3 linked regions of the Homo sapiens genome follow. The protein of the gene in region 1 interacts with the protein of each later gene in a pairwise test. Each region holds a gene or a part of one and is shown on either strand. Other genes may lie near its edges.

Region 1 (7,196 bases):
GAGTTCGAGACTACCCTGGACAACACAGTGAACATAAACTCCCCATCTCTACAAAAAAATTTTTTTAATCAGCCAGGCATGGTGGCATGTGCCTGCAGTCCCAGGTACTTGGGAGGCAGAGGTGGGAGGATTGCTTGAGCCCAACAGTTTGAGGCTGCAGTGAGCTATGAATGCACCACTGCACTCCAGCCTGGACAAAAGAGCGAGACTTTGTATAAGAAAAAAAAAAAAAAGAAAAGAAAGAAAATGCAAACATACAACCTACTACCATACAATGCCAGAGCAGTCCTAAACGTGATGATGAGCTGTGCTGCCCATCAGGAAAAGTACAATAGTCTCATTTCACACATAAGGAAACATATACCCAGAGCATGGGACTCTATCATGCTGATTAGAATTCATGAAGGAGATTATGCAGTACCTCTTTCCAAAATTCACAGGCAGAGCCTGACTCACAAGACAGCACGTTCTGGCACCCCTCAGCACCTCCCAAATGAATCAGCAACATGACCAGCTGCCCAAACCACTAGACCCTATATTGTGTAAAGGGAACCTAGAACAGGATATCCTAAAAAGAGCAACAGAGCTTACCATGGGACAAATCAGCAGCTGCCATCCCGCGAGGTGAGAACGTGTCAGAACCCTCCTTTCATTGATGTCACCATCACTTCAGGACACCTCATTAATCTAAATGGACAGTGGCAATCTCCATTCCTCTTTAAACAGGGTTATTGGGATTCCTGTTGGTATTAATCAATAATCAACAAGCAGTACTTAATCATCAGCCATCAAACATATACACCGGCTGGGGCAGTAGCTCATGCCTGTAATCCCAGCATTTTGGGAGGCCAGGGTGGGAGGACTGCTTCAGCCTAGAAGTTTGAGACCAGCCTGGGCAACATAGCAAGACCCTATCTCTAAAGAAACAAAAATAAAAATAAGTAAACAAACAAAAAAAAATGAAGTGGTAAACCAGAACCTGAATGCAAGTACAAGTTTTGCACACACACATAGAAAAAATAATCTCACAATACACTTTTAAGTATTGGGTAGCCTCAACTGGGCCTTGATTGGAAACACTCAAATCAAATCTGCATCCCCAGCTCACACTGTCAGAGAGGCAAGGCCAAACCACTCTGTGCCTAACACTGGTCTGTTTTATGGGTCTTCAAAGAGAACTACCTTTTCATAGTATTTATCTGGTTAATTTTTTTCCACCAAAGTTTGGTTTTATTTGGCTGGGCAGGGTGGCTCACGCCTGTAATCCCAGCACTTTGGGAGCCTGAGGCCAGAAGATCATGAGGTCAGGAGTTCAAGACCGGCCTAACCAACACGGTGAAACTCCATCTCTACTAAAAATACAAAAATTAGCCGGGCGTGGTGTGCGGCTGTAATCCCAGCTACTCAGGAGGCTGAGGCAGGAGAATCGCTTGATCCTGGGAAATGGAAGTTGCAGGGAGCTGAGATCACACCACTGCACTCCAGCCTAGGTGACAGAGCAAGACTCTGTCTCAAAAAAAAAATAATAATAATAATAATGACAATCATTAATTAATCAAACATGAAACAGTGGCTCAAACAATCACCTACAGAATGGGAGTCAAATGATGATAAACAGTGAAAGTTCCGCAGTTCATTATCCATGAACCAAATTCACAAAAACTCTATAGGCCTCCTTCTACCAATAAGACTAAAACCCTAAAGTCACAAAAACCACAGTTCTGGACTCCTGGTATAGATCACACCTACTCCCAGGGGTCTCAAACTAGGGGTCCTAGGGCTGACTAGGCCCACAAATATTCAGTTTGGTGGCATCTGTATAGAATATTTAACTCTTTTTTTTTTTTTTTTTTTGGAGAGATGGAGTCTTGCTATGTTGCCCAGGCTGGTCTTAAACTCCTGGGCTCAAGAGATCTTCCTGCCTCAGCCTCTCAAAGTGCTGGGATCACAGGTGTGAGCCACTGTACCCAGCCAGCTTTTTTTTTTTTTCATTGATATACAATCAATGTAGCTTAAAATGCACACATCCTTCGTTTCTCTTTTTTTTCTTTTGAGACGGAGGCTCACTCTGTCTCCCAGGCTGGAGTGCAGTGGCACGATCTCAGCTCACTGCAACGTCCGCCTCCTGGGTTCAAGTGATTCTCCTGCCTTAGTCTCCCAAATAGCTGAGATTCCAAGACCCCACCACCACGCTCGGCTAATTTTTTTTCTATTTTTAGTAGAGACGGGGTTTCACCATCTTAGCCAGGCTGGTTTCAAACTCCTTAATCCAACCATCCTGTTCATTGTAAATTTGATTATTGTGATACTAGAATAATAAAGCCTTCATCCTTTCCCTCTGGAGGTCTGATTAAGAAGCTCTCTTGGGATGTACAGGCCTAGGAACTCCATTCGAAGATAATGAATTATTATTCTTAGTATTCTTTAGCAGAAAGACTTGCGGTCTACAAACGTTTATATTCACATACACAAATACGCACACCCTATAAACCTAAAAAGCATCTTTATCTTTCGCCATGAAAGTAATGGTCAAAAATAAAACACAACACAATAAGACGAAACCAAACTTACAGATGAAACATTCGTTTGCATAAGAGAAGACAGAAAAGGCCCCCTAGAACCAACTTTCACCCAGTGCTCACCGGAACACTCAGAAATCGCCAGGTCCCTGAACCGGGAAGATCCTGGGGACGGAGCCAACGCGGATGCAAAAGGCAGCAATTATTTTCCTGCCGGAAAAAAATTCACAAACGCTGCTTTGGAGGCCTTTGGAGAGGGGCGCACAGATGAAAACACCCTGCGGACACCGTAACTATAAACCCGACTCCTCCCGAGGAGCGACGGTCCGAGCGGACGCTAGCGGGCCCAGCAGACACGAGCAGAGCGGGCCAGGCCTCTCTAACGTCCGGGCCAAACCCGTCCTTCACCCCAAAACCAGTTCATCTCCTCGGAACTCACCCAGGCCAGTGAGGCCTTAACTCTGAAAGGCAAAAAGACTCTCAGGCGCTCACAGCCGGCGTCACAAAAGGAACGGCGCACCGCTGACGTCATTTACGCTCTCCGCCTCGGGCCAGGCGGGGTTTCGGGACTAGGGTTTCTGCCGTGTAATACCTCCTCGAGGCAGAAAAATTCTACTTTCCATCTGCTTGGCTGCGGAGGACCTTGGGGTGGGCTCAGCGTGGGGGCTGCAGGCAGAAATGGGTCCAGAAGGCAAGGTCGAGGTTAGAGCCAAGCCTGTGGGCAGGGCTACGGGCAGGGGGCGGGGAGGAATGTGGGTCCAGGCCCAGAGGAAAAGGTTGAAGTTATAGCCAGGCCTGTGGGCGAGGCCGCAGCAGGGCGGCCATAGGGGAAGGAGCCAATGTGTTATGCATGTAGAAAATAGGTAACTACGTCTTTTGCTCTGTTACTATTTCAACATTTGATGTAAAAAACATTTTCTATGCAGCTAAAAGAATTGTTTTTAAAAATAATTTCTAGGTTTTCTGCCTTGCTTTAAAACATCTTTTCTTTTTTTTTGAGACAAAATCTCACTCTGTCACCAAGGCTGGAGTTCAGTGGAGCCATCTCAGCTCACTGCAACCTCCACCTCCCAGGTTCAAGCGATTCTCCTGCCTCATCCTCCCAAGTAGCTGGAATTACAGGTGCATGCTGCCACACCCTGCTAATTTTTGTATTTTTAGTAGAGGCAGGGTTTTGCCATGCTGGCCAGGCTGGTCTTGAACTACTTGTCAGGCCTCTGAGCCCAAGTTAAATCATCATAAACCCTGTCACCTGCACGTATACATCCAGATGGCCTGGAGCAACTGAAGAACCACAAAAGAAGTGAAACAGCCAGTTCCTGCCTTAACTGATGACGTTCCACCATTGTGATTTGTTGCTGCCCCACCCCAACTGATCTCTTGACCTTGTGACATTCTTCTTCTGGACGAGTCTCAGGAGTTCCCCACCGAGCACCTTGTGACCCCCGGCCCTGCCAGCAAAAGATAACCACCTTTAACTTTCCACTACCTACCCAAATCCTATAAAACTGCCCCACCCCTATCTCCCTTTGCTGACCCCTTTCTCGGACTCAGCCCACTTGCACCCAAGTGAATAAACAGCCTTGTTGCTAACACAAAGCCTATTGGTGGTCTCTTCACATGGATGTGTGTAACATTTGGTTCCGAAACCTGGGACAGGGGGACTCCCTTGGGAGACTGGCCCCGTCCTCACCCTCACTCCGTGAGGAGCTCCACCTACTACCTCGGGTCCTCAGACTAGCCCAAGGAACATCTCACCAATTTCAAATTGGGTAAGCAGTCTCTTCACTCTCTTCTCCAGCCTCTCTCACTACCCTTCCATCTCTCTGTCCTTCCAATTCCAGTTCTTTTTCCTCTCCAGTAGAGACAAAGGAGACACATTTTATCTGTGGACCCAAAACTCCAGCTCCAGTCACGGACTCAGGAAGACAGTCTTTCCTTGGTGGCTAATCACTGTAGGGATACCTGCCTGATTATTCACCTACATTCCATTGGTGTCTGATCACTGTGGGGATGCCTGCCTTGATCATTCACCCACATTCCCTTGGTGGCAAGTCAATTGCAGGGCTGCCTGCTTTGGCTGCTTACCCACATTACAGCCCAGGGCTGCTCACCCCCACCCCACTCCACTGCCTTCTCCATGTCTCTACCTTTCTCTTTAAACTTACCTCCTTCACTATGGGCAATCTTCTGCCCTCCATTCCCTGTTCTTCTCCCTTAGCCTGTGTTCTCAAGAACTTAAAACCTATTCAACTCACACCTGACCTAAAACCTAAATACCTTATTTTCTTCTGCAACACCACTTGGCCCCAGTACAAACTTGACAATGGTTCTAAATGGCCAGAAAATGGCACTTTTGATTTCTCCATCCTACAAGATCTAGATAATTTTTGTCATAAAATGGGCAAATGGTCTGAGATGCCTGACATCCAGGCATTCTTTACACATTGGTCCGTCCCTAGTCTTTGCTCCCAATGTGACTCATCCCAAATCTTTCTTGTTTCTTTCTTGTCCTTTGAATCCTCCTTTTCTATGGACCCATCTGACCTCTCCCCTCCCCCTCAGGCTGCTCCTCGCCAAGCTGAGCCAGGTCCTAACGTATCCAGAATTGGTGGGTTCTTGGTCTCACTGACTTCAAGAATGAAGCCGTGGACCCTCGCGGTGAGTGTTACAGTTCTTAAAGGCGGCGTGTCTGGAGTTTGTTCCTTCTGATGTTCGGATGTGTTCAGAGTTTCTTCCTTCTGGTGGGTTTGTGGTCTCGCTGGCTCAGGAGTGAAGCTACAGACCTTTGCGGTGAGTGTTACAGCTCTTAAAGGCAGCATGGACCCAAAGAGTAAGCAGTAGCAAGATTTATTGCAAAGAGCAAAAGAACAAAGCTTCCACAGCGTGGAAGGGGACCCAAGGGGGTTGCCACTGCTGGCTCAGTAGCCTGCTTTTATTCTCTTATCTGGCCCTACCCACATCCTGCTGATTGGTAGAGCCGAGTGGTCTGTTTTGACAGGGTGCTGATTGGTGTGTTTACAAACCTTGAGCTAGATACAGAGTGCCAATTGGTGTTTCCACAATCCCTGAGCTAGACATAAAGGTTCTCCACATCCCCACCAGACTCAGGAGCCCAGCTGGCTTCACCCAGTGGATCCCGCACTGGGGCTGCAGGTGGAGCTGCCTGCCAGTCCCGCGCCATGTGCCCGCACTCCTCAGCCCTTGGGTGGTTGATGGGACTGGGCACCATGGAGCAGGGGGGAGCTCTCATCAGGGAGGCTCGAGCTGCACAGGAGCCCATGGAGGGGGTGGGAGGCTCAGGCATGGCGGGCTGCCAGTCTTGAGCCCTGCCCTGTGGGAAGGCAGCTAAGGCCTGGCGAGAAATCAAGCGCAGCACCAGTGGGCTGGCACTGCTAGGGGACCCAGTACACCCTGTGCAGCTGCTGGCCTGGGTGCTAAGCCCCTCATTGCCTGGGGCCAGCAGGGCCGGCCAGCTGCTTCGAGTGCAGCCGCCAAGCCCACGCCCACCTGGAACTCCAGCTGGCCCGCAAGCACCATGCACAGCCCCAGTTCCCGCTCGCGCCTCTCCCTCCACACCTCCCTGCAAGCTGAGGGAGCTGGCTCCAGCCTTGGCCAGCCCAGAAAGGGGCTCCCACAGTGCAGCAGTGGGCTGAAGGGCTCCTCAAGTGCCGCCAAAGTGGAAGCTCAGGCAGAGGAGGCGCCAAGAGTGAGCGAGGGCTGTGAGGACTGCCAGCACGCTGTCACCTCTCACTAATTCTTCCTCAGCCTCTGCTCCCTACCCTGTGATCTTTCTATCACCTCCCCTTCTCACACCCGGTCCAGCTTACAGTTTCATTCCATGACTAGCCCTCCCCCACCTGCCCAACAATATCCTCTTAGAGAAGTGGCTGGAGCTGAAGGCATAGTCGAGGTTAATGCTCCTTTTTCTTCATCCAACCTCTCCCAAGTCAGTTAGCATTTAGGCTCTTTTTCATCAAGTATAAAAACCCGGCCCAGTTCATGGCCTGTTTGGCAACAACCCTTAGACAGTTTACCACCCTAGAACCAGAGAGGCCAGAAGGCCATCTTATTCTCAATATGCATTTTATTCTCAATATGCATTTTATTACCCAATCTGCTCCCAAGACTAGAAAAAGCTCCAAAAATTAGATTCTGACCCTCAACCCCCACAACAGGACTTAATTAACCTCACCTTGAAGGTGTACAATAATAGAGAAGAGGCAGCCAAGTGGCGTTGTATTTCTGAGTTGCAATTACTTGCCTCTGCTGTGAGATAAACCCCAGCCACATCTCCAGCACATAAGAACTTCAAAATGCCTAAACCACAGAGGCCAGGTGTTCCTCCAGGACCTCCTCCCTCAGGTTCTTGCTTTAAGTGCTGGAAATCTGGCCACTGGGCCAAGGAATGCCCGCAGCCCAGGATTCCTCCTAAGCCATGTCCCATCTGTGGGACCCCACTTGAAATCGGACTGTCCAACTCACCTGGCAGCCACTACCAGAGCCACTGGAACTCTGGCCCAAGGCTGTCTGACTGACTCCTTCCCAGATCTTCTCGGCTTAGCAGCTGAAGACTGACACTGCCCGATCACCTCGGGAGCCTCCTGGACTATCACAGATGCTTTGGGTAACTCTTACAGTGGAGGGCAAGTCTGTCCCCTTCTTAATCAATACAGA
Region 2 (2,949 bases), on another chromosome or scaffold:
GAATTTGCTTCTGGACGTGTTGAGATGCTATTCAGACCTTCAAGTGGAATCCTGAGCCCCTTGGAGCCTCAGCTCCTCACCTGCAAAATGGGGGTAGCCAGGCTTACCTGGCATGTGGCTGAGGGGATTTCCTGAGAGGTGAGAGGTGGCAGGTGTGGGGTCAAGGGCAGTGAGGAGCAGGGGTGGGGCTGGGGTGGAGAAGGGCCTCTCAGAACAGCCCACTCCCTCCTCAGCCACGCAGGTCAGGTGGATGTGTCTGGCAGTCCAGTAAGGAGCTCATGGCGGGGGCCTGAGATCCGGGCCTACTCCTTGCCATGGGACCCATCCCAATGCCTCCGTGCTTCTGTTTCTCATCTGACAGTGGAGCTGGGCTGTGGGCCTCAGCACAACTGCGAGGAGCTAGCAGGAGGCTTGCAGGTGCCTGGGCAGGCAGCAGGCACTGTCACACACATCCCTGCTGAAGTGGAGATCCCACCTGCCCCCAGCCCTGGGGGGGGTCACAGACCCCCTGGACCACACAACTCTTATGGCAGAGGCTGTCACAAAGCATTAATACTTTTATTCCCATCAGTGATGCTGACGGGCCTGACCCTTTATAGAGAAAAACATTAGGAAAACAGAAGTGGGCAGGGACCCTGGGAGCCTCCATTCTCAATGCCCCACCCTTTACCTCTCTGCCAGTGTCAGCGCCTTCAAACCAGAAGGTATGGGGATGGCCTGGTGGGGTGGGCCACACATGGGGCTCCCCAGGCAAGGCCACCTGCTGACAGAGGTGAAGGCGAGGGCAGGGAAGCCAGGGCCCAGCAAAGCTCTTCTGGCGCAGGCAGCATACGGAGAAGGGCGACGGGTGGGTTGTTCTCCTTGGTTACTGGTCCTGGGCTTTCAGTGCCCTGCGGCAGCCTCACGGGGGCCCCTGCTGGCTCCGCCTCTCCTCCAGCGCCCGGCACACCCACATGGACACCACGGCGGCATTTCCATCATTGAACTGCACGATGAACGGGTGGCCCTGCGGGGAAGAGGAGGAGGCTGTGACAGGCAGTCCTCGGACTCCCGCGCTCATTGTACTTTCCAGGGCCTGCCCTCAGCCTGGATCTGATCTCTTTCCCCAGTAACCCTGTGAGGTAACGAGGGAGGCTATCAGCTCCATTTCACGGCCTAGATAATTGAGGCCCAGGGACGAGCAGTGACATACTGGTAGTCAGCACCAAGCGTGTGGAGTGCTGGCTGGCACATCTCAGACTCTGCCACCTCTTCCTGAGGCTCGCACTAGCCTGGAAGGTGCTTAAGGGCGAGGGCCTGTCTTCGCTGCACACTCTGCCTGGCCCTTCCTCTGCCCGGCATCACTCGCACGGCCAGTCAGCCGAGGCCTGGCACTGTGTTGCCAGCTTTCCGGTTCAGTTGGTGCCCAGAGACCAAAGAATCATCTCGTCAGAGGCTATGTCAATCCCTTTTAGCTTTCTCCTTTGTCTACAGCTCTCCTATAAAAAGAAGTCACCACCTGCAATTGGAGGGAAGGCAAACATGTCAGGGGAAGTGGGGAGGGGGAGGAATGTGCTGGGCTGTGCACAGGATCTCTGGGTTCCTGGTGAGAAGTTCCATTGGGGGCTGGACTCTGGAGGGGCCGGCCCTGTTGCCCTGTGGCCTGCCTCTGGTTCTAACCCACTTATCACACAGGCAGACCAGATTCTATTTAGCCAGTTCTCTTCTCTGCTGTCCTGAAGCACCAAGATTTACATCCACAATCTTAGGGCCTCCTGGGAATTCCCAGGGAAGGTCAGAAAAAAGCAGGGACAACCCCAGGGTTACCAGGCCACAGTCAGAGGTGAAAGGAAAAGTGAAAAGCCTTCTTTTTCTTCCTCTTCACCAAGTGGCTTCTTGCCCAGGAACTTACACCAAGTGGCTTCCTCTCCTACCCAAAACTGTGCAGCTTGCATGGTGAGACTCGGGGAGCCATAGCGAGGACAGAGAATGGGGGAGATGAGGGCGCCATGTGCCTGCCCCCAGCTCTTCTCCCTCCCTGTCCAGCGGCCGCTTCCTCGCTCCCCCCAGCTCTCTCCTCCCTCCAGCTTCCTCAGCCCCTCTTGGGCCTGTCCTCCACCTGCACAGGCTGGGCTTTCAGGGTTGCTTTCCCAGCACACCCCAGCCTTGACTGCAGCCCTAGAGAGGCTGCTTAAAGAGCCGCATGGCCTCGCCACGAGCTCATCACAAAGCCAGGAGGGATGTGGACCCTGGCTGTCCCAACCTCAGCGCCTGCAGGGGCTGTCAAGGACCAGGCCTGGGTAGAGCAGGGGACGGCATGGCCCCTCTGGACCACAGGTCAGAACTGTGGGGGACAGGAGAATGCTCAGGCCGCCTCATCCTAGGCTGATGCAGTGCCCGCCCCCAACCTTCTCATTCGAGGTTGGGAAACCTGCCCTGGGGACACCCTGCGTGGGTCTATCTCAGAGGCACACAGAGCACTGTCAGAGCTGCGAGGAGGAGGAGGAAACTCGGCTTCGAAGATGCCAAGGCACTCAACCCCGGGCAGGGACCCGCTGAGACTGGGGTGGAGCTAGGCCTGGAGCCCAGCTGGGTACTTCCCATAATCTGCTCATAGCACTCTGGGAGGCTCCTGACACACCTGCAGGACCCCTAAGGGCACAGGGGCCATGGAGGCCAGGCTGGGTGTGGCCCTGTGGATGGCAGAGGTTTGGTCTGGGGCCTGAGCAGGAGAGGCCCAGGAAGGACTGGATTTTGGCTTCCAAGTGTTCTCCTCCCCATATATATGCCCACCCCACGGCTGCTTTCCCAAATCGCTGCCTAGACAGAGGAAATCCTTCCCAAAGTCCAAGCGTGCACACTTCCTCTCAGGAGGCTCAGGAGGGGCGACCTCGTGCCCTTCTAAAGAACAAAGGGAGAAGCTGTGCTCACGAGTGACGGGCCCCTCCCCCCACGCCCGGGGTAACACAG
Region 3 (7,037 bases), on another chromosome or scaffold:
CTTCTTTCTCACATTGGAGAACCTCCCCTGAGGAAGGGCTGGAATCAGGGGTGGCAGGTGTCTCTACAGGTACTTAGTGTCCTTGGAAGCCCAGCGTGACCTTTGCTTCTCTATTTTGTCATTGTCCTGAGGAGCTACTCCACAGTCACTTCTGCACATCCCCCTGCACGTCTTCCTTTGTATGTCTACCTCTCTAACCCAAGTCTTGTCCATAAAGCTTATCCTTCCAGCTTTGCTGCAGTCCTGACGAGTGTGTCCTCTGCATCTCTGGAAACCACTCCATGGCCATTCTCTAGGTCCACAGCGCCACCTAGTGGCCAATATGGAGCACGCCAGCCCCTGCCTTCCTAGCAGTCCGCCTGAGTCTGTAGGAGTCGAGTTCTTTCTGACTTCCTGCTGGCTTAGTGACCCCATTAACCTGAGCTTCTTTCTCCTTTACAGGCGGCTATGAGAGGTTTTCCTCCGAGTACCCAGAATTCTGTTCTAAAACCAAGGCCCTGGCAGCCATCCCACCCCCGGTTCCCCCCAGTGCCACAGAGCCCTTGGACCTGGGCTGCAGCTCCTGTGGGACCCCACTACACGACCAGGTAGACTCGGGGGGCAGGGCTTGGAAGTGGGGGGCAGGAACAGCGTAGGGGCCAGTGGATGCCTTCTTTTCAGAGTTCTGACGGTGTTTTTTGTCTTTGCTTTTGAGACAGTCTTGCTCTGTCACCCAGGAGTGCAGTGGTGTGATCATAGCTTACTGCAGCCTCGAACTCCTGGGCTCAAGGGATCCTCCCTGGTAGCTGGGACTACAGGTGGCACTACCATGCCTGGCTAATTTTAAAAGGTTTTTGGTAGAGATGGGGGGGGGGGGTCTTGCTATGTTGCCCAGGCTGGTCTTGAACTCCTGGCCTCAAGTGATCCTCCTGCTTTGGCCTCCCAAAGTGTTGGGATCACAGGCGTGAGCCACTGCATCCAATCCTGAGATTTTTTTAAGTCTTTGAATGTTATGCCTCAATTTGGGGAGAATGCGGTGAACCCGGAGTATTGGGGTGGGATGTTAGGTAGGACCTATTTACTTCTTGGAAATCTTCCCCTTCCCTCTCTAAATATCCTCCTAAGAAAAAAGTCTAAAGACATGACTCCCTGGCTTGGCCTCTAACGTCGTGTCCGGACAAGTGAGGAGGCCTCCAGAAGCCCTGGGGGACCTGCTCTCTGGGAAGCTGAGGTCATTCTCCTCTGAAGTAGCAGGCCATGAAATACATCTCAGTCCCCGACAGGCAGGCTGCTCCCACGTATCAGCCGAATGAACATAGATGGTCACCCACCCTCCCTCCAAGAAAACCTGCTTGAGCCACTGTGTTTCTTATAAGCCCACCCTCCAGCCCTTTCAGTTAGATGGACTCTGCTGCCCACATCTCATGTGCTAAATTTAAGCCACTGTTGCCTCATTTTGCCAAGATCCTCTCTCTTGTCTGTGTGGCCATGAGGGCATCAGCTTATTTATTTGTTTATTTTTAGAGACAGAGTCTCACTCTGTTACCCAGGCTTGAGTCCTGTGGCGCAATCATAGCTCACTGCAGCTTCAAAGTCCTGGGCTCAAATGATCCTCCCATTTCAGCCTCCCAAGCAACTGAGACTACAGGTGTGCACCATCATGCCAGCTTCATTGTTTGAGAGATGAGGTCTCACTGTGTTGCCCATGCTGGTCTTGGAACTCCTGGCTCACATGATCCTGCCACCTCAGCCTCCTAAAGTGCTGAGATTACAGGTGTGAGCCACTGCACACCTGTTTTTGATATGCCCAGTGAATACATATCAAAACAAATAAGTATCTAAACCACACAGCAAATGGCTTGATGATTAGCAGATATAAACTCAGTGTCACAGATGGTGCCATAAGGCCGGCATTGTCCTGCCGCTTATTTTGCCATGGGGGAGGTGCAGGAGAGTCCCACAAGACTTTACCTGCCCTGGCCTCTCTGCTCACAAGTAGAGGGCAAAGGCTGGAGAAGTCCCACTGGGCCTATCACCCCTCCAAGAGTTCCAGGAGGCTACAGGGGGAGGCTGGGAGGGCCAGGCCCAGCAGGCATTCTCCCTGGGTTTGGAAAGGAAAGCTCTTCTCAGACAAGCTTCCACTCCCTGTGCCAAGCACTTTACCCTCATGTCATTCAGGGGCCTTTGTTTCCCTTTCTGTGCAGGGGGGTCCTGTGGAGATCCTTCCCTTCCTCTACCTCGGCAGTGCCTACCATGCTGCCCGGAGAGACATGCTGGACGCCCTGGGCATCACGGCTCTGTTGAATGTCTCCTCGGACTGCCCAAACCACTTTGAAGGACACTATCAGTACAAGTGCATCCCAGTGGAAGATAACCACAAGGCCGACATCAGCTCCTGGTTCATGGAAGCCATAGAGTACATCGGTAGGCTGGCCCTGCTCTGGGGTTCCTGGGTTTGAGGGCGGGTGGGAAGGATAAGGAACCCCTGTAAGCCTGGGTTGAAGGTGGACATTGGAGGCACTGAATCCAAGGGTCCCCATTCCCCCTCTTCCTCATTGGGAAGGCTTATACATTGGATGTTGGGTTGGGAGGGAGGAGGGAAGATGGACCTACACACAGGCTTAGCTTGCAGAGCCAGTCCCCTTCCCCTTGCATGGCTTCAGTGCCTAGATGGTAAGAGTTTTTGGACGGGGAGGAAGACACAAGGAGCATTGAGTCATAGTTTTTATTTTATTTCTATTTATTTATTTATTTTGAGACAGAGCCTTGCTCTGTTGCCCAGGCTGGAGTGCAGTGGCGCCATCTCAGCTCACTGCAACCTCCGCTTCTGGGGTGCAAGTGATTCTCCTGCCTCAGCCTCTGGAGTAGCTGGGACTACAAGTGCACCACCACGCCCAGCTAATTTTTGTATTTTTGTAGAGACAGTTTCATCATATTGCCCAGGCTAGTCTTGAACTCCTGAGCTCAAGTTATCCACCCTCCTTGGCCTCCCAAAGCGCTGGGATTACAGGAGTGAGCCACCACCCTGGACCCCACTGTTTTGTTTCTGCAAAGGGAAATCCTTGAACAGATAATAGGATTTAACCAGCTTCAGCATAGTGATTCGGGAAAATAGACCTCAGAATTGGGGGCATTCTAGAGACCTGCCTACATGGGTTTTCTTCCTCTCCAGTCCTTGGTCTAGCACGGCTAGTCCTTCCTTCAGAGCCCCCCGACCCCAGGGGCTGGCCGGTGCCCCTGGTCGGGGCTGGGGTCTGCAGAAACGTGCACTAACCTATTGAACCCTGTCCCCAGATGCCGTGAAGGACTGCCGTGGGCGCGTGCTGGTGCACTGCCAGGCGGGCATCTCGCGGTCGGCCACCATCTGCCTGGCCTACCTGATGATGAAGAAACGGGTGAGGCTGGAGGAGGCCTTCGAGTTCGTTAAGCAGCGCCGCAGCATCATCTCGCCCAACTTCAGCTTCATGGGGCAGCTGCTGCAGTTCGAGTCCCAGGTGCTGGCCACGTCCTGTGCTGCGGAGGCTGCTAGCCCCTCGGGACCCCTGCGGGAGCGGGGCAAGACCCCCGCCACCCCCACCTCGCAGTTCGTCTTCAGCTTTCCGGTCTCCGTGGGCGTGCACTCGGCCCCCAGCAGCCTGCCCTACCTGCACAGCCCCATCACCACCTCTCCCAGCTGTTAGAGCCGCCCTGGGGGCCCCAGAACCAGAGCTGGCTCCCAGCAAGGGTAGGACGGGCCGCATGCGGGCAGAAAGTTGGGACTGAGCAGCTGGGAGCAGGCGACCGAGCTCCTTCCCCATCATTTCTCCTTGGCCAACGACGAGGCCAGCCAGAATGGCAATAAGGACTCCGAATACATAATAAAAGCAAACAGAACACTCCAACTTAGAGCAATAACGGCTGCCGCAGCAGCCAGGGAAGACCTTGGTTTGGTTTATGTGTCAGTTTCACTTTTCCGATAGAAATTTCTTACCTCATTTTTTTAAGCAGTAAGGCTTGAAGTGATGAAACCCACAGATCCTAGCAAATGTGCCCAACCAGCTTTACTAAAGGGGGAGGAAGGGAGGGCAAAGGGATGAGAAGACAAGTTTCCCAGAAGTGCCTGGTTCTGTGTACTTGTCCCTTTGTTGTCGTTGTTGTAGTTAAAGGAATTTCATTTTTTAAAAGAAATCTTCGAAGGTGTGGTTTTCATTTCTCAGTCACCAACAGATGAATAATTATGCTTAATAATAAAGTATTTATTAAGACTTTCTTCAGAGTATGAAAGTACAAAAAGTCTAGTTACAGTGGATTTAGAATATATTTATGTTGATGTCAAACAGCTGAGCACCGTAGCATGCAGATGTCAAGGCAGTTAGGAAGTAAATGGTGTCTTGTAGATATGTGCAAGGTAGCATGATGAGCAACTTGAGTTTGTTGCCACTGAGAAGCAGGCGGGTTGGGTGGGAGGAGGAAGAAAGGGAAGAATTAGGTTTGAATTGCTTTTTAAAAAAAAAAGAAAAGAAAAAGACAGCATCTCACTATGTTGCCAAGGCTCATCTTGAGAAGCAGGCGGGTTGGGTGGGAGGAGGAAGAAAGGGAAGAATTAGGTTTGAATTGCTTTTTTAAAAAAAAAGAAAAGAAAAAAAAAGACAGCATCTCACTATGTTGCCAAGGCTCATCTCAAGCTCTTGGGCTCAAGAGATCCTCCCACCTCGGCCTCCTGAGTAGCTGGGACTGCAGGTGTGTGTCATCATGACCAATGTGAATTGCTTTTGAAGCTGGTTCATGGGCATGTAGGCCACCGAAGCAATTTTAGACCACAGTAAGTCAAGCTTTTTTCCCTCCGATGATCACTGGGTGGTTGCAGCATTTTTTGCATAAACCTGCCTAAGACTTGTCTATCGTCTGTGATCAATATGCCATATTACACTAAGGTGCTCCTGGAAAATTGGGTGCAGTTCAAATTTTCCTACAGCAAATCATTTGGCAAGGCCAGCCATTGGGGAAACCAGACAACTAGAGATAACCCTGAAATGAATCCTTTTGTAAATTGAAGCACCATCTTTTCTTTTTTTGCATAAATTGGAGGTTTTAATTTTAGGGCAGTTACCTGAAGTGAAATATACCAACAATTTCTTGTGTTCTTTAAATTCCTAGTTAGGTGAATATTTTTGAAGGTCCTCTTTTGAATAAAGAGGGGAATGGACACCACATTTCAGGTCTTCTCGAAGTGTGGAAGGGCAAGAGAGCATCAGTGAGCTGATGGTGGATTGCTTACATCGGATTCCATTGGTATGAATTTCCCAAACTGGAAATCAAAGCGCCAGGGTGGGGTTGGGGCTGACTGCTGGTGAGGGGGCTGGCCGCTGGCTCCCGTGACGTGCGTCATGGGCACGCAGGCGCCATTTTGAATCTATCGTCGGCACGTGGGTGCCATTTTGAATCCTTAGTTGGGCCTTTCTAAATGGAGAATGGCTTTGGAGGGAGACACGTTTTCTGTGGGGAGGGTTTGGGGGGGAGGGAGGAGGGAACAAGCTACATGCTATTTTGTTTGTAGTATTGTGGAACAGTCTTGTTATGGAGTGCCAGCTTAGAGGTTGTTGCAAACTTGTCTAGAAGTGAGAGCATGGTTTTTTTTAGCCCTTTGAGAGTCTACATCTAATGAACATTCTTGCTCACCCATAAATAACGTCAAGCCTCAATGTCACCGTCACGTTGGGATACTCTTTCTCATCTGGCATCCTAGACAGGACAAGGTTGGTTACCTTTCCTTCCATGAACCATGAACCTGTGACGGCATCATTCATCCTGACTTCACCAAGCTCCGCCTGTGGGTGAGGCCAGAGCTCCCACTGGCAATTTTTAGAAGAGCCAGAGGCTCCCTGCTTCCTCTAGAAATAACAGTTCAGGGTGAAGCATGGAGGGTTTCAGTTCCCAGACAATGGAACCATTTAGAGACAACACAGTTGGACATTTCCACTTTTTCCTTGATTCCTGGAAGTCCAGTGGGTTCTGCAGCTGAAAAAGCCCTGGGTCCCAGCAGCAGAGAGACAGGACAGAGGGGATGCTTGGGCGGGGAGGGACGGTAACCTGCAGAACAGATTCCATTTTTATAGAACGAGTACACGTTTGCTAAAACAGTCCTGCTTTCCCAGACTGGATTCCCACCACAGGGACAGTCGGAACTCAGGACTAGCTCCAGCGACATCTTTCCTCCGAATTCAAGCCTTCTATCACAATGTCAAAACAGCTATTTATAAAGCCATTTTCATTGTACTTGATAACAGCACGAGTCCCAAAACTTTTAGAAATAAAATAGGACATTGGCTTGATTGAAAAGAGGGACTTTTTAAAAATTGTTCTTTCGTCAGAAGCCTTTTGGATGACTTACAATAGCTCTGATGAAGATACCACCCCAGCGTCAGTCCAATAGGTCAGTGAGTTTCAACAGGCATCCATCCCTCCCATGAAGGGATTCTGGTGATGGGAAGTTTCTGTAATGACAGGAAAGCATTGACCCTCATTGATTGTCAACTTTGGTATTAGCCATGAAAGACAGGATGCTCATTGGGTGTTCTGTAGAGTGAGGAATGCTGCCTATTCCCTCCCAGAACGTCTGACCCAGGGGTGTGTGTTGAGGAGCCCTGGGGGAAATGGACCAAGTTTTCCCACAGAGCAGTATTAGGCTGAAGAGCAGGTGACTGGTAGGCCCCAGCTCCCATCATTCCCTCCCAAAGCCATTTTGTTCAGTTGCTCATCCACGCTGGATTCCAGAGAGTTTTCCAATTTGGGAAGCCATGAGAAAGGTTTTTAAATCTTGGGAAGATGGAGAGAGGGACATAGGATAGTTGACTCCAACATGACAGGAAGAGGCTGGAGATTGGGAATTGGCCATCAACCAAGCCTGTAGTAGTAAAGCCATGGTCCCGCATTGGAATTACTTGGGGAACTTATACAGTTCTGATACCCAGGCTCTCCTAGACCAGTTCAACCAATTCTAGGTGGGGGACTCAGGCATCAGTGTGTTTCGTAGCTCCCCGGGTGTTTTCCCTGTGCAGCCGAGCTTGGGAAACTGCCAT

The links.
Region 2: the proteins of ZNF426 (region 1) and MAP2K5 interact in binary tests that used the Homo sapiens proteins (3 or more experiments, as listed by UniProt).
Region 3: the proteins of ZNF426 (region 1) and DUSP4 interact in binary tests that used the Homo sapiens proteins (3 or more experiments, as listed by UniProt).

Annotation. Positions count from the first base shown.
Region 1 is NC_000019.10:9,535,617-9,542,812, forward strand, and holds the start of ZNF426 (zinc finger protein 426), read right to left. Parts: upstream 3,030-7,196; 5' UTR 2,959-3,029; exon of another isoform or gene 2,730-2,958; 5' UTR 2,643-2,729; intron 741-2,642; 5' UTR 617-740; coding exon 592-616; intron 1-591. UniProt on the Homo sapiens protein: May be involved in transcriptional regulation.
Region 2 is NC_000015.10:67,804,703-67,807,651, reverse strand, and holds the end of MAP2K5 (dual specificity mitogen-activated protein kinase kinase 5), read right to left. Parts: intron 1,007-2,949; coding exon 902-1,006; 3' UTR 538-901; downstream 1-537. UniProt on the Homo sapiens protein: Acts as a scaffold for the formation of a ternary MAP3K2/MAP3K3-MAP3K5-MAPK7 signaling complex.
Region 3 is NC_000008.11:29,333,648-29,340,684, reverse strand, and holds part of DUSP4 (dual specificity protein phosphatase 4), read left to right. Parts: intron 1-441; coding exon 442-587; intron 588-2,183; coding exon 2,184-2,403; intron 2,404-3,273; coding exon 3,274-3,659; 3' UTR 3,660-7,037. UniProt on the Homo sapiens protein: Regulates mitogenic signal transduction by dephosphorylating both Thr and Tyr residues on MAP kinases ERK1 and ERK2.